Homo sapiens: one gene and its partners. The protein of the gene in region 1 purifies or fractionates together with the protein of each later gene. This does not show direct contact. Each region holds a gene or a part of one and is shown in the gene's direction. Other genes may lie near its edges.

Region 1 (3,500 bases):
GTTCCTTCCACCTTATGCAAGTACTAATATGCATTGTCACTATAGATTAAATTTCCTTTTCTAGAATTTCATAAAATGAAATAGTATTGTCAGTACTCCTGTGTCTAGCACTAAATGTGTTTCTAAGATGAATTCAAATTTTTGTATGTATCAATATTCCTGTTTCTTGGGGAAGAGGTATTACATTGTGTTAATATATTACAATTTATCCATTCATCTGTTGATGGGCATTTGGATTGTATCCAGGTTTTGACTCTGAACAGAGCCTCTGTGAACATTCTTATAAAGAGTACTGGGTAGTATGCTTTCATTTTCATGTCCTTAAGGGAAATTATGGTTCTGTGATTTCATTTGTTGTAAGCCTTAGATATTTGTTATTTGATTTCCAAATATTTGGGTATTTTTATGCTATCATTTTGTTATCAATTTGTAGTTTAATTTTGTTATGGTCAAAGAATGTACTTTGTATGACTTTAGTCCTTTTAAATTTATCAGTGTTTGTTTTATAGGACAGAATGTAGTCCATTTTGTTGAATTTTCCATGCACATGAAAAAAAATGTGTATAATGCCATGGGTGGGTGGATTGTTGTGTAATGCCAGTCAGGTCAAGTTTCATGATAGTGTCATTCAGGTATTCCATATCAGTACTTTTTTTTCTTGTGTTATCAAGTCATTGAGGGGGCATGTTGAAGTTTCCAGTAGATTTGTCTGTGTTTCCTTTCGGCTGTATCGATGTTTCCTTTATATATTTTGAAGTTCTATTTTTGTGTTCATGCACATTTAGAATTATGTTTCCTTGGGGGACTTAACCGTTTTATTATTATGTACTGTCTCTCTTTATCCCTGTTAGTATTCCTTGTTATGAAAACTGCTAACGGTAGTGAATAGATAAAAGTGTAGTTGGATTACAATCTTAATCTGCCATTTTTCTAGATGATTGGTTATGTTTCTTCTGTTTTCTCTTTCTGTCTTTTGTGTATCAATCAAATGGTTTTTATGGTTTTATTTTTTTGATTTAAAACTTTGTTTTGAGACAGGGTCTCACTCTGTCTCTCAGGATGGAGTACGGTGGTGCCATCACAGCTCACTGCATCCTCGACCTCTGGGGCTCAAGTGAACCTCCCACCTCAGGCCATTCACTGCGCCCATAGGAGCTGGGACCATTTCTGGCTAATTTTTGTATTATTTTTTGTAGAGATAGGGTTTCACAGTGTTGCCCAGGCTGGTCCCAAACTTCCGGACTCAAGCCATCTGCCCACCTCGGCCTCCCAAAATGCTGGAATTATAGGTGTGAGCTGCTGCACCCAAGCTATTTTATTTTCATTTTTCTCTTAAAAATATTTGTAGTGGTGGCTCTGTGTTAAATTTTTTCATTTTTTTTCTCTCTGTACTTCAGTTTGGGTACTTTCAGCATATTTTCAAATTTACTGATCTTTCATTCTTACCTGATTAATTCCATCCACTTTTTAATTTTACATATTTTTTTGTCTCTAGACTTTTATCTGGGCCCTTTTTAATATATTTCTTCATCATTATGTGGATGATTTCCAGCATGCTTATAATAGCTTATATAAAGTCCTTGACTGCTAATTTCATCATCTTTGTTATTTCTGCATTCTCAGTTGACTGAATTTTCTGCTAGTTGTGTATGGTAGTTTTCTTCTTCATATCATGTCTTCATATCATTTTATTGAATGCTTAGTACTTTGAATTTTATATTTTTGAGCATCAGGTGTTGTATTCCTGTTAAGGAGTATTGGACTTTATTTTTTCAGAAGTGGTTACATTCGTCTGTGGCTTATGTTGTTAGGCAGTATGTAGGTATGATTGAGCTGCATTGCTAGGGTCTAAACTCCCCTGTATATCCACTGAATCCTCTGGATTTTCAATAGATGCTTCACTGTGGCCTCATCTCTGACGACTGTGTGAGCGTTGGATCTCTTTAGCATATCGCCCTCGGTCACTTTTTGACCAGTTTCATGGAGTTTTTCACCTGTGCATGCGTGGGTTTTTCAGAAGGTCTTCACTGATACTTGGAAAGTGCCTCTAGGCAGAAAGTTGAGGCAAACTTCTGGCTTATCTAATTCATTTTCCTTCTTGGATATTATCATTCAGTACTGCCTGTGGCCTCATGTCTTTAAAAAGTTAACCTCAGTGTGGAAAATCTGTTTTTCCAGTTTTCTAATTGTTTACAACGGGAGTGTAAGTCTGGTCTGTTTTTCCACCCTGGCTGGAAGTGGAAGTCATGGCCTACCATTTTATTTTCAAACCTTTTTTTTTTTCCTACCCAGAATTAGCCTGAAATGCCTCATCTACGATTACTAATAAGAGAGCCTGTTAATTTTGTTTGAAAAATTTAAAGGAACTAGTTTACAGTTTTTCAACCGTGTTATTAATAAAAATTAAATTTCCCTACTTTATCATAGTCTCCCTTTTTATCGTAGTCTTTTGTCTATAACAGTTAAGGGGCAGGGGGAAGCTAGATGTATTATTAAGTAATTTTTACTTTTCTCATTTTTTTAGACCTAAGGATTGTCTTCGGTCTATTATGAGAAGAGTGAACCACAAAGATCCTCACGTTGCTATGCAGGCTTTGACTGTGAGTGGTTTCATTTTAATCTGTACCACGAAATTACCTGCCACAATTGAGCCCCTTTAACTTCTGATTTTGTGCTTTTAGCTTCTAGGAGCATGTGTATCAAACTGTGGCAAAATTTTTCATTTAGAAGTATGTTCAAGAGATTTTGCTAGTGAAGTAAGCAACGTATTAAATAAGGTAAGGAGCATTATTTCCAGAAATTAATTAAGGCAGTCTTCTTTCTTCACATATTTTATTGTTTAAATCTTCACAGAGGACTATTCTGTGCTTTTTAAGAAATCCTTTCTAGGCTGTGTCTATCCAGTATATAAATAAATATTATGTTTTGTTGAAGAGACTGCGGATTCATGTAACTTTGAGTTAGTTTTTTCAAGCCATATTAGAGTGTTTTTAACCTGTTCTTTTCCATCATACTTTCATCTGATAAGAAAACAGGTATTTCTATATCTAATTAAATAATATCAGTCTATTTTACATACTGTTTTTGTAGGCACAAGGTATTTTCCTAATGGAAAACCTTTCAGAAACACTGCAAAAAGTCTATGGCACCGTTGAGTTTTTATCTTTATCAATAAGGCTGCTTCCTGGCCATCACAGGATTTTAATACTATACTGCTATTCTTACTGGCTGAACCCACAGCTGGAGTTGCCTCAAAAGTGGTGGCGGGGGAGTTTCCACAAGGGACTGCCCCAAACTGTTCCAGATAGGGCCAGATGAGAGTCCAAAAAAAGAGGCACTAAATGCCAGGGTGATCAGTCTAAAGGATTTATTAGGGGAACTTACACAGGAGGGCTGCAGTTTATAGGAGGGTTTAAGGAATTTGGCTCAGGGTTGGGGCTGGTTTCTGTGTGTTTAGCAACATACTTGATCTTTTAGTGTTTTGGGCCACAACCTGAACA
Region 2 (3,500 bases), on another chromosome or scaffold:
GTTTTCCTGTTAGTGCCTTAGTTCTTCCTTTGAAGTACATGTTATATTCATCCCCCTTTCCCGCTTTTTTTCCATTGTCACAATCTTGATCCAAACATTCATTTTAAACCTGTGTTTGATTCTTTCTTGGCCCTTGCTCAGCTTTTTACATTATACTGTGAGACAAATTTGAAAATATATTCATTGTAAGACTTACTAAAATCTACGGAAATTCTTGGTTGCTTTCTAAAGCTTTCCATAGAAATTCAAATTCATTAGATGATTCCAGAATTGTGTTTTCTGTATTCATTCCTTGAAGACATTTATAGGCCACTGTGCAAGGTGCTGGGGATACCTAGGTGAGCAAAAGAGTCTTACAGCACCAAAGATTAATGAAGTCCTCTTTAGGAAAGCTATGCTTAAGCTAAGAAGTGAAAGATGAGTTACCTGAGTAATGGATTAAACACTCTTCTTTCTGTTTGTGGAGAAGTAATTAGGAGAGGTGGCGGCAAGAGTGGAAATAAAACCAATTTATACAGCATTATCTGAAGTGCTTGAAATTAGTAGAATGACGGAAACATACATATCATTCCATTGATTCCACTATCTCAGGTATTCAGTGAAAATGGTATGCTTCAGTTTTTTCACGATAGGGAGCTAGTGTATTTTCCATTTATACAGAGTTAATGAGCTAGATTTATATTGTATGGGTTCATAGAACATACCAATGTCTTTGTTGTCAGCAGACTATTTTGCTGCCTCTTAAAATAATTTTATTTACATACTTTTGAAAAATTAACTACTAGAGTTATAGTTCACTTTCTAATTTTACTATATTTTTGAGCTTTCCATATTTGTCATATTACTTTTCAGTTTTTTCCTATGTAAATTATTTCCAATTTAGATCCCACGTATGTTTAAAAATATTTTTATTAACTTCCAAGTATTTTGAAGTTTTCACTAGTACAAAGTATAATGAAGAAAAGATGCTATATTAGTGTGGGTTTTTTTCAGAAAGTGAAATTTTAAAAATATTTTTTTAAATATGATAGGCAAATTTTAAGTTACAAGTCCTAATTTTTATAAAATATTTTTATTATAAATCTATTTAATATTTTGCTGATGAATGAAGTCCCTAAGTCTGGAAATCACCGGCCTTATTGTACTGATACTGCTCTGGAGTATGTGACCAGTTAGATTGTATTACTCTTGATCAACACATACCTCTTTAATTTTCAATGGGAGACTTTTTCAAAATATGTCAACTCACTTTTCCTAAAACTAGCTCATTTTCTTTAATTCCAGTCTCTCCTTTAAGCTTATGTCAGAGACCTGCCAATTGAATTGTATACATTGGTTGTGACATGAGAGAATAGTGGTTTGCTAATCTCAACTACTTTTTAATAGAATCATTTAATTTCAAAATTTACTGGCTACTTCAGAGAACCTGTGTGACTTTTACCTATGTGTTAAAACCAATTAAACCAGGGCCAAAGGATGGCCTTTATTGTGTTATTGTGTTTGTCTGTGTAATTAGGAATTTTCCAAGCTCTAATAAGGCCTGCTACATTTTAAAGTAGCAAAATTTCAGAATATCAGAAGATTTCAGACTATTTGCAGTTGGTAAACAGTGGAATTTAATGCTTGGTTGTTACTGAGCCCACCCTTCCCAGAAGAATTACGATTAACTGTAGAGGAAAGTCCTTTAAAACTTGGTTATAGCAGAAGTTTGAGATGTTTTCCACCAATACTTTCTATGAATTAAATAAGTCATGTAGGGCAATTTGGAATTGAAAAGAGCTAGAAGTACAGCCATATGACGTTACAACTAAGTTCTCTGTATTTTCTGTGGTGATTTCTAATATGCTTTCTAAAGACTAGTAATTTATTAGATGGGTAGGCAGCCATTGTTGATTAGATGTTTTTTGTTGTCTGGAGATTTGGGCATGATGTGTTTATTATTTAAATCAATTGTCATAGGGTAACAATTTGTGCCCTCTTTTTTAAGGATATGGTGGTGGTTTTAATGAAAGAGAAAATGTTGAATATATAGAAAGAGAAGAATCTGATGGTGAATATGATGAGGTAAGCTATATTTTGGTGTTCAGGTTGAATATAAATTAGAAAAACAGAAAAAATTCTTAAATGCAAAGGAAAACAAACTTTTTTTTAAGTGCAATTTGAGTCTTCAGCAACTGATCATTTTCAGGAAATCATAAATATCTAAAATAATTTTTTAGAAAATGTATTAAGTTTAATGCATTATCAGCTGACAAGCATTTTGAAATTGTTTTTCTCTAGTTTGGACGTAAAAAGAAAAAATACAGAGGGAAAGCAGTTGGTCCTGCATCTATATTAAAGGAAGTTGAAGATAAAGAATCAGAGGGAGAAGAAGAGGATGAGGATGAAGATCTTTCTAAATATAAGTTAGATGAGGTGAACAATTTTCTTGTCCTATTTCCCTTTTGTCTTATTGGAGTTATACCATAACATGAATGCTTTTGACAGCCTCAGACACTTGGTGAAAATATATTCTGTGTTTTCATTTGTTCTCACAAAGGTTTTGGATTTCCACTCTGCCAAGTACTATTTGTACTTGGAACACTACTGTTCTGGAGATACAGTGGTGACCGAAACAGAACCAGTTTTCTCTTACACAGTTCTAGAGGAGGAAATATATAAATAGGTAATTTTGATAGCAGTAACGTTATGAAGACACATGATGTGATAACAGTTTAAAAGCAACTTTGGTTTTGCCGATGGATAATGTCTAAGGAGGTGAAGTTTGAGCTGAAACTTGAATGATAGGAAGGAGCCAGCAATAAGAGCCGAGGTGAGAGCACATTTAGGCAGAGAACAGCAAATACGGGTTCCCTAAATAGGAGATAAGCCAGCAGCCTTCAAAAATACCATACATAGGCCAGTATAGTTAGAGCAGAGGGGAGAATGAGATGAGGGGGACAGCACACATTTCAGGTCTGGTGATACTTGTTCTGTCAGGCCAGAGTGTAAGTTTTATGCCATGTTAAGGGTACCTTAGAGCCTGATCATAAGAGGTCTTGGAATGCAACTAAAGAAATAATAAGCCAGTTTTGAAGTTTTTAAGAAAAAAGTGAGATGTGTTTATCTGTCCTGTGTTTCAGAGTGATGACTGTCAGTATATTGAGATACTAGAGAGGCAGAATGGATCTTCAGATTTGAGGAGACCAGCTAAGAGGTTACTATAATATGCTAGAGAATAAGGAACAGAGTGTCTAAGACTAAAAATGGTGATTTCAAGGACTTTTAAGGAGGTGGACTTGAAAATTCTTGGGTGATGCATAAGTGTGACAGAAAAAGTGTGTATGGCCTCCAGGTTTATGTCTGTGCAATACCTGAGACAAAGTTGTCAAGTCTCTATTTGAGATGAGTTTAGTAGGTGAATTTTAGAATTCAGAATTAATTTGCTGAGATACCTGTGATATATGCATATGGAGGTGCTCAGTACACCTAACTGTTTTATCTTTCCTGGTAGGTAACAC
Region 3 (4,084 bases), on another chromosome or scaffold:
CAGGAATTTGAGGCTGCAGTGAGCTATCGCATCACTGCGCTACCTAGCCTGGGAAACAGAGCAAAATCCTGTCTTAGACAAAAAAAAAAAAAAGAAAGAAAAAAGAAAAGAAATGGAACAACTGGCTCCTAATCAGGTAACTCAGCACTGAGTATGATGTGAGCACACTCCAACCCCCCTATAGCTGGAGGTGGAGGTGGAAAGACAATGGAAGCCTTTGATGTAACCCTTTTGATACCCTGCTAGAGGACAGCAGAAAGATACTTGAGAGAATGTTGTCTATCTTCCCGAGAAATTTCTGGTTGAATGTCAAGATAATGATAGGATGGGCTTCTGGGCCAGGGGAGCAAGGCAGAGGGAAGGAGAGTATCAGTTTCCTAGGCATGTCCTGTTACAGGGAGAAAAACACAGTATTTTCCATTCTAGATCAGGGGAAAGATGAGGTCTCCCATAATACCTGAAACTGGAATTATGGCGAGGAGCTTTTTATGTGGGAATTTCTGTACTAAATTTAAAGTCCTTGGAGAACCGCTTAGGGTAGCACCGACAGCCCGCACCGTCCCCTCACCCCGCTTTATTTTTCCTCTGGCACAGCACTTAGCACCATAGGACCCATCAGATATTTACGGCCTGTCCCCGCTGCCCCTCCCGGGCAGGGATTTTGTTTTGGTTCGCAGCTGCAGCTCCAGGGCCTAGAACAGCCCGGGCACTTAGTAGGCCCAGTAAGTATCTGCGGGAGGGCTGAATGGGTGCGTGGACAGCATTCCTCTCACTGACCCCGCTGCGAGGTGAGCCAGGCAGGGGCTGTCACCATTCCTGAAGTCCAGGTGAGGGGGAAGCGACCCAGGGATGGGAACCTGGCCGGCCTGAAGGTCTGGAGACCGGGGTTCGAGCCCAAGCCCTGCCTGACAGGCAGTGACCTTGGGGGTCACTCTTGCGCCTCTCGGAGCCGGGTTTCCTCCTCGCACAATGAGGGCGATGACCCCCAATCGCAGCGCGCCCCGCGGTGACTTGCCCAAGGTCACCACCGTCCCGGGCCCGTGGCGCCCCGGCTCGGGAGGACACGGGCCAGGCGGGCGCGGGGTTCTGGGGTGGGGGCCGGCGCGGGGCGGTCCCGGGGCGCGGCGCGCGCTGACGCCGGGGCCCCGCGATGCGGCGGGGACTGGGCGCGGGGGGAGGCGCGTCGCGAGGCGAGCGTCCTCCTTTTGTGCGAGCGCCGGCGGCTCGGCTTCTCGAAGGTAAACAGCGCTTCCTCTTCCTCCTCGCCGCGCCTCTTCCTTTTATAGTTATTTCTCGCCTGGCACTCGCCCGGGCTGCTGCTGCTGCTGCTGCTGCCGCCGCGGCGGGGGCAGCTCGCAAACCTGTGGCGGTGACGTGAGCCCCGCCAACCCGGAAACGGCGGCGGCGGCGGCACCGGAGGCTCCGAGGCTCCTGCGCTCCCGCGCCGCGCTCCCCTCGCCCGCCCGGGCCGCCAGGTACGTGCCGGGGCTCTGAAGGCGCCGCCGCCCGGCCGGCCCGCGCGCGCGCCCCTGGATCCGATTTGCCCCCGGAGAGGGCGCGGGGTGCGGGGCGCGCGCGTGATGGGTGCGGGGAGAGGCGGAGGTACCATCCGGGCCGCCGGGCCGGGCGCTGCGGCGGGTGGACAGGGGGCGCCGCCGTGGTGGGGGCGTCCGGGCCGGCGGGCGCGGGGGTCCCGGGGGAGGCGCCTCGAGTGCGCGGGGGGCGGCGGGCGGACGCGAGGGGAGCGCGCAGCGGGGCCGCCGCCCGGGTCCACCCAGCTGCGGAGCCGGCGCCTTGTGCGCCTCGAGGCAGGGGGCGCTCGGGTCGGGGTGGCTGGTCCCTGGCAGACCCTTCCTGCGAGCCGGGTGTCGGTGCGGGGACTGACCCCGGGAGCAGCGCTGGCCCCCGGCCACCTCCCATCAGGGGCTTGGAAGACCAGTCGCATTGGATTTGAGGAACTAGAGGGGGTGAACAAAATCTCCACTGGCCTCAAGACTTCCTCCTGGGGTAGCCACCCGCCTGTGTTTAAAGAGCACTTCCTCTTCGCCTTTTATCTTTTCATTATCTTTCTTTTTAAATGGAAGTTCAGTGTTAGCGGGTGGGTGCCCTTGCAGCCTGCAGGGCTTTCCTGGGGCTGTGTACACACACACTGGGGTTGGGAAAAACCTGTGTGTCCTTTGAAACGTGTGTCCTGTGTCAGGAGTGGAACGAAGGAGGAATCGAGGTCTTACCATGCTGGAGCTACTTGGAGTGTGCCTTTGCTACCCACCCTGCTGCAAGAGGTGGAGGGGTGCGGAGGGATAGAGCTGGGGCTGCGGGGGAGTGTCACATGCACTTTGCAGCTATGTTTAATTCCTGGCCCTGCCGCTTACTAGCTGTGTGACCTTGGGCAAGTCGCTTACCCTCTCTGAGTCTTAGGGTCCCGTCTGTGAAATGGGCTGCTGCGAGTGGGGCCTTGAGAAAACGAGCGTAGATTTCCTGGCCTGCAGGGGGCGCAGTGATAGAAAGTGTCATTGCCAGTCACCTTGAATTTCTGCATCCCCAGCACCTAGAAAGGGTGCGTTGAAGCACGTGGGAAGCACCCCATAGATAATTGTGAGATGAACGAGTGGGTGGTGAATTTTGAGAGGTGAGTCGGTGTGCTTCCACATTTTGGCTTCCTTGCCCTGTAACATCCATCCAGGATCTCCAGGGAGCAATTTTGCTATCTGGGTTGGATGGACTCCTCCCCTCTCTGAGGAAGACCATCTTGTGAAAATACTGACTCCCTTGTGAAAAAGGGCTTAAACTCTGACTTTGAGACTCTCCCATTCTTGGAAGATTGCACTGGGGGAAAAATAAAAAGAAGGCGTCATTTTGATTGCCACCGCCAGGTGACTGGCTGAGGCCAACAGCCAAGACTGAGCCAGGGCTGACGTCTGGGATGGTTTCCCAGGCCTGGGGTTCCTGTAATGTGGGGGAAGCCCGGAAGAGGTGACTTTTCTACCTTGGTCGGCATGCAGAAGTGGTCAGCTGGCCTGAGTTTTCTTCCTGAGGAGGCACATTGGAATTTGCACTCTAGATCCTTGCTGGGCTCACAGCACGGAGAAGGGCAGAGTGTGTGATGCAGGAGGCTGAAGTGGGTTCCAGCACAGGGAGACTTGGAAATGGTTTTCAGATAAAGGCCAATATATGTTTCTGCCCTTCACTTTGGGAGATTTTCAAGTAATTTTGCTGTCTCTGACAGCCACCCCTTCTCCTTTCTCAGCTCCCAAAGTCTTCTGTGTGCCTCTCTTAGGATCCTTAGCTATGTGGGTCCCCCAACTCCCGACCCCCGTAAGTGCTACTATTATTTTTAAGAGACAGTGCAGACCCTTCTGTGCAGCAGCGTGCTGCAGTTTGAGCATGTGCAGATTCATTTTGTTTGTGTTTTGACAGGGTCTCACGCATTGCTGAGGTTGAAGTAGTGCAGAAGTAGCGTGATCATGTCTTACTGCAACCTTGACCTCTCAGGCTCAAGCCATCCTCCTACCTCAGCCTCCCAAGTAGCTGGGACCACGGGTGTGCACCACCATGCCCAACTAATTTTTTAATGTTTTGTAGAGATGGGGTCTCTCCATGTTGCCCGAACTCCTGGGCTCAAGGGATCCTCGCTGCCTTAGCCTCCCAAAGTGCTGGGATTACAGGTGTGAGCCACTGTGCCCGGCCCAGATTCATTTTTAATGACTGAACTGTGGAGTGGCCAGGGTTACCTGTAAAGGAGAGCTAGGGTTCTCGTTTTCCTGAGACTTAGAGAGAGTGCAGGACTTGGCCCAAGACCTTCAGTCAGGAAGGGGCAGATTGAGGGTCCTTGCCTAAGTCTTCAGCCTGCAGAGCTCACTTTTCTTCTTGCAGACGCTGAGTGGTCTTTGTGCTTCCTCTGGCACCTGACCTGCTGCCTGGCCCATGCAGGAAACAGTACGTGTCTTTTGACAGAATGGGCAGAAGAATGATGGGTTCCCCTTTGCTCTTTGAGGATGTACATTCTTTTTCCATCTCAAGGTCAGCGCACTGGCCTGCAGTTGACCTTGAAATGGTTGTCCCGTGGTTCCTCCCTATGTGGAAT
Region 4 (3,500 bases), on another chromosome or scaffold:
AGGTACTTGGGAGGCTGAGGTGAGAAGATAGCTTGAGTCTGGGAAGTCAAAGCTGCAGTAACCCATGATTATACCACTGTGCTCCAGCCTGAGAGACAGAGCAAGACCCTGTCTCTCTAAAATGTATGTATTATATGTGTTTTTTATGGGCAGATTCTATAATTATTATTTAAATAGTTGCCTCTTAGTTGCTCTTGTGAAATCTTTTGCTGCAAAAATTGAAGCAAATGTACTTTGGTTGCTGTTTATTGCAAAATATTTATTCATAGTAAATTTTGAAATAAAAATATATCCCCATAAGACATTTGTAAACATTTTCCAGATAAAAAGCAAGTATTTGGCATCTTAAAATACTTAAAAGCTCACTAGAATTTTGACAAAGCCATTGAGATCTTTACCACTAAAACACGTAATTCAGCATCTAAAAGTCGGTCTATCAAATCTTTATTAAATGCTTTCCGTACTGACACGGCCCTGGTGGTTAAAATACAAGTGCATATGTGTGCCTGTCTGTGTACTCTTAAATACTGCTTACTCTCACTCTTCATCTGATTAAGTTGGAGGGAAAAAATCTGAACCCTTCCACTGCCCAAGAAGGATTTCAAGGAATCACACTATATCATTGTCTTCAGACCATTTCCTATGTGGAAAGAAAAGAGAAATAATACATAAGAAACTTAAAAGTGTGTTGCTTTAATATCTTCTCTCTGCTAAATAAAGGCCTGATAGGCCAGGTGTGGTGGCTCCCACCTGTAATCCCAGCACTTTGGGAGGCCGAGTTGGGCGGATCTTGAGCTCAGGAGTTCAAGACCAGCCTGGGCAACATGGTAAAACCCTGTCTCTACAAAAAATACAAAAAATTAGCCAGGCATGGTGGCGCATGCCTGTAGTCCCAGCTACTTGGGGGGTTGAGGTTGGAGGATTGCTTGAGCCCCGGAATTTGAGGTTTCAGTGAGCTTTGATTGCACCACAGCACTCAGCCTGGGTGACAAAGTGAGACCCTGCAAAAAAAAAAAGGCCTGATATATCCTATGTCATCTTGACAATAAACACTGGAGATAAGTTGCCCAAACCCATATGGCTTGAGTGTCAGTTTGCATAGCTCTTTTCTAAACTCTTATAGAAATTTTTCAGGTAAGAATTGAGGTGATTCTACTTTCAGAAAGTTAAAAAGTTGTTAAATTACTAAACAAGACACAAAACCTGTCACTCATGCTTATTTAATTACATAGAAATTTAATCAGCTGGAATTTCCATTGTGAAAATTTTGTTTCTTATGGAAACTTCAATAGATTTTTTAATTGCTTTTTTGTTTTGTTTTGTTTTGTTTTGTTTTGTTTTGTTTTGAGAGATGGAGTTTTGCTCTTGTTGCCCAGGCTGGAGTGCAGTGGCGCAATCTCAGCTCACCGCAACCTCCACCTCCACCTCCCAGGTTCAAGCAATTCTCCTGCCTCAGCCTCCCGAGTAGCTGGGATTACAGGTGTGCGCCACCACGCCCAGCTAATTTTGTATTTTTAGTAGAGACAGGGTTTCTCCATTGGTCAAGCTGGTGTCAAACTCCCAACCTCAGGTGATCTGTCCACCTCAGCCTCCCAAAGTGCTAGGATTACAGGCGTGAGCCACCGTGCCTGGCCTAAATTGCCTTTATAAAAGTTTTTTATAGTATCTGTTATAATTATGTACAAAAAGTCAAAAGCTCTTTAAGCAAGTTGTATAACTCTGGTTTTTGTTTTAATTATCCAATATAATTTTCTCTATAAATCATACTGTAAAACCTTGGCTAACTCCATTTCCAGCTTTTTTCTTTGTGTTAGTAGAGTTTTATCTAAAAGACAAGGGTATAATTTAAATGTCCTGCTTCTTAAAAATGGAATATGGTCAAGGTTTTCTTGAAAACTAGGTATTGTGCTAAAACTGAGGCTATAGATGGTATGAAACATAGGGCTAAATGGGTACTGACCCTAATAGTGGCCCTGGAACTTCTTTCCTTGCAGAAGGTCCGTAACAGCTTCCTTTGGTTATTTGCCTCTTTTTCATTATTAAGCTGAAATAGAGCCAGAGGAAATCCTGAATTTGTAAGTCCTCAGTCAGCTGTCTGCCACCATTTAACGTTCCTAAAGGAGCTATTCAGAGGCAACACACACCATTAATTACCACCATGCACTGTAGGAAAATGTAAACCATTCATTATCACAGGACCCTAGATAGATCTGTATGAGGTCTCTATAGACTGCAATGGCTCATGAAGGAGTCAGGAAGATTCTTTTTGTAAGGCCTACGCTAAAAGTAGCCTGGGTCCCTTTCTCCTGTATCTCACTCTTCCACAAGGCCATATGATATGATAGTGAGAAGAGGCCCAAAAACGAGAGTTATTTTTATTTAGTGATTTATAAGTGGTCTAATCCATCTATTCCATCCTTCATTTGCCATAAACACAACCCAGTTTATACTTAGTGTTCAAAGGGGGACAGGCCTGGGGCTTCTATCAAGTGCAAGTGGTCGGGAACCCTGCTTCCCTTATGCAATCATAGGCATGTAGGAAGGATGGAAGAGTAGCTGCACAAAGTAGTCCAAAAGAAAGATAGCTGGTCTTGTTGATGGGCACCTGTAATCCCAGCTAGCTGGGAGGCTGAGGCAGAAGAATCACTTGAACCCAGGAGGCGGAAGTTGCAGTGAGCCGAGATCACACCACTGCACTTCAGCCTGGACAACAGAGTGAGACTCCATCTCCAAAAAGAGAAAAAAAAGGGGCCACAGTACTTAAAGGAAATAGCTGATGTGCTATGGCTCTATTGTTCCAGGAGCTTTTATAAATAGCAATAACTAATGTCTACAATAACTCGGCCAGGCATGGTGGCTCACACTTATAATCCCAGCATTTTAGGAGGCCAAGGCGAGAGGATCGCTTGAGCCCAGGGAGTTTGACCTGCAGTGAACTATGATTGTGTCACTGTAGACCTCTTCCTCTTCAGCTGCCTCAAAAAACGAACAAACAAACAAAATAGCCAGATCTCCTCTCTACAGAATTTTTTTTTTTAATTAGCCAGTGGTGGTAATGTACCTGTGGTCCTAGCTACTTGAGAGGCTGAGGTGGGAGAATCACTTGAGCCCAGGAGTTCAAGGCTGCAGTAAGCTATGATCAGGCTACTGTACTCCAGCCTGGGTAACAGAATGAGACCTTGTCGAAAAACAAACTACAACCCTATGAAGTATTGGCTGGGTGCTCTGGCTCACACCTATAATCCCAACAGTTTGGGAGGCCAAGGCAGGAGGATCACTTGAGCCCAGGAGTTCAAGACAAGACTGGGCAACATAGGAAGACCCCCATCTCTATAAAAAATTAGCCAGGCATTATGGCACACGCCTGTGTTCCCAGCTACTCAGGAGGCTGAGGGGGTAGGATGGATTGGGCCTGGGAGGCTACAGTGAGCCATGATCACACCACTGCACTCCAGCCTGGGAAATAGAGTGAGATCTTGTCTTTAAAAAATAAGATTAAA

What was found.
Region 2: the proteins of STAM (region 1) and ZRANB2 fractionate together in Homo sapiens (co-fractionation; one large-scale study listed by BioGRID). This does not show direct contact.
Region 3: the proteins of STAM (region 1) and CYRIB purify together in Homo sapiens (affinity purification with mass spectrometry; one large-scale study listed by BioGRID and IntAct). This does not show direct contact.
Region 4: the proteins of STAM (region 1) and IKBIP purify together in Homo sapiens (affinity purification with mass spectrometry; one large-scale study listed by BioGRID and IntAct). This does not show direct contact.

The regions. Positions count from the first base shown.
Region 1 is NC_000010.11:17,682,151-17,685,650, forward strand, and holds part of STAM (signal transducing adapter molecule 1), read left to right. Parts: intron 1-2,524; coding exon 2,525-2,600; intron 2,601-2,681; coding exon 2,682-2,777; intron 2,778-3,500. UniProt on the Homo sapiens protein: Involved in intracellular signal transduction mediated by cytokines and growth factors. Upon IL-2 and GM-CSL stimulation, it plays a role in signaling leading to DNA synthesis and MYC induction. May also play a role in T-cell development.
Region 2 is NC_000001.11:71,071,036-71,074,535, reverse strand, and holds part of ZRANB2 (zinc finger Ran-binding domain-containing protein 2), read left to right. Parts: intron 1-1,987; coding exon 1,988-2,064; intron 2,065-2,280; coding exon 2,281-2,415; intron 2,416-3,500. UniProt on the Homo sapiens protein: Splice factor required for alternative splicing of TRA2B/SFRS10 transcripts. Binds to ssRNA containing the consensus sequence 5'-AGGUAA-3'. May interfere with constitutive 5'-splice site selection.
Region 3 is NC_000008.11:130,013,761-130,017,844, reverse strand, and holds the start of CYRIB (CYFIP-related Rac1 interactor B), read left to right. Parts: upstream 1-1,284; 5' UTR 1,285-1,475; intron 1,476-4,084. UniProt on the Homo sapiens protein: Negatively regulates RAC1 signaling and RAC1-driven cytoskeletal remodeling. Regulates chemotaxis, cell migration and epithelial polarization by controlling the polarity, plasticity, duration and extent of protrusions.
Region 4 is NC_000012.12:98,638,289-98,641,788, reverse strand, and holds part of IKBIP (inhibitor of nuclear factor kappa-B kinase-interacting protein), read left to right. Parts: intron 1-3,500. UniProt on the Homo sapiens protein: Target of p53/TP53 with pro-apoptotic function.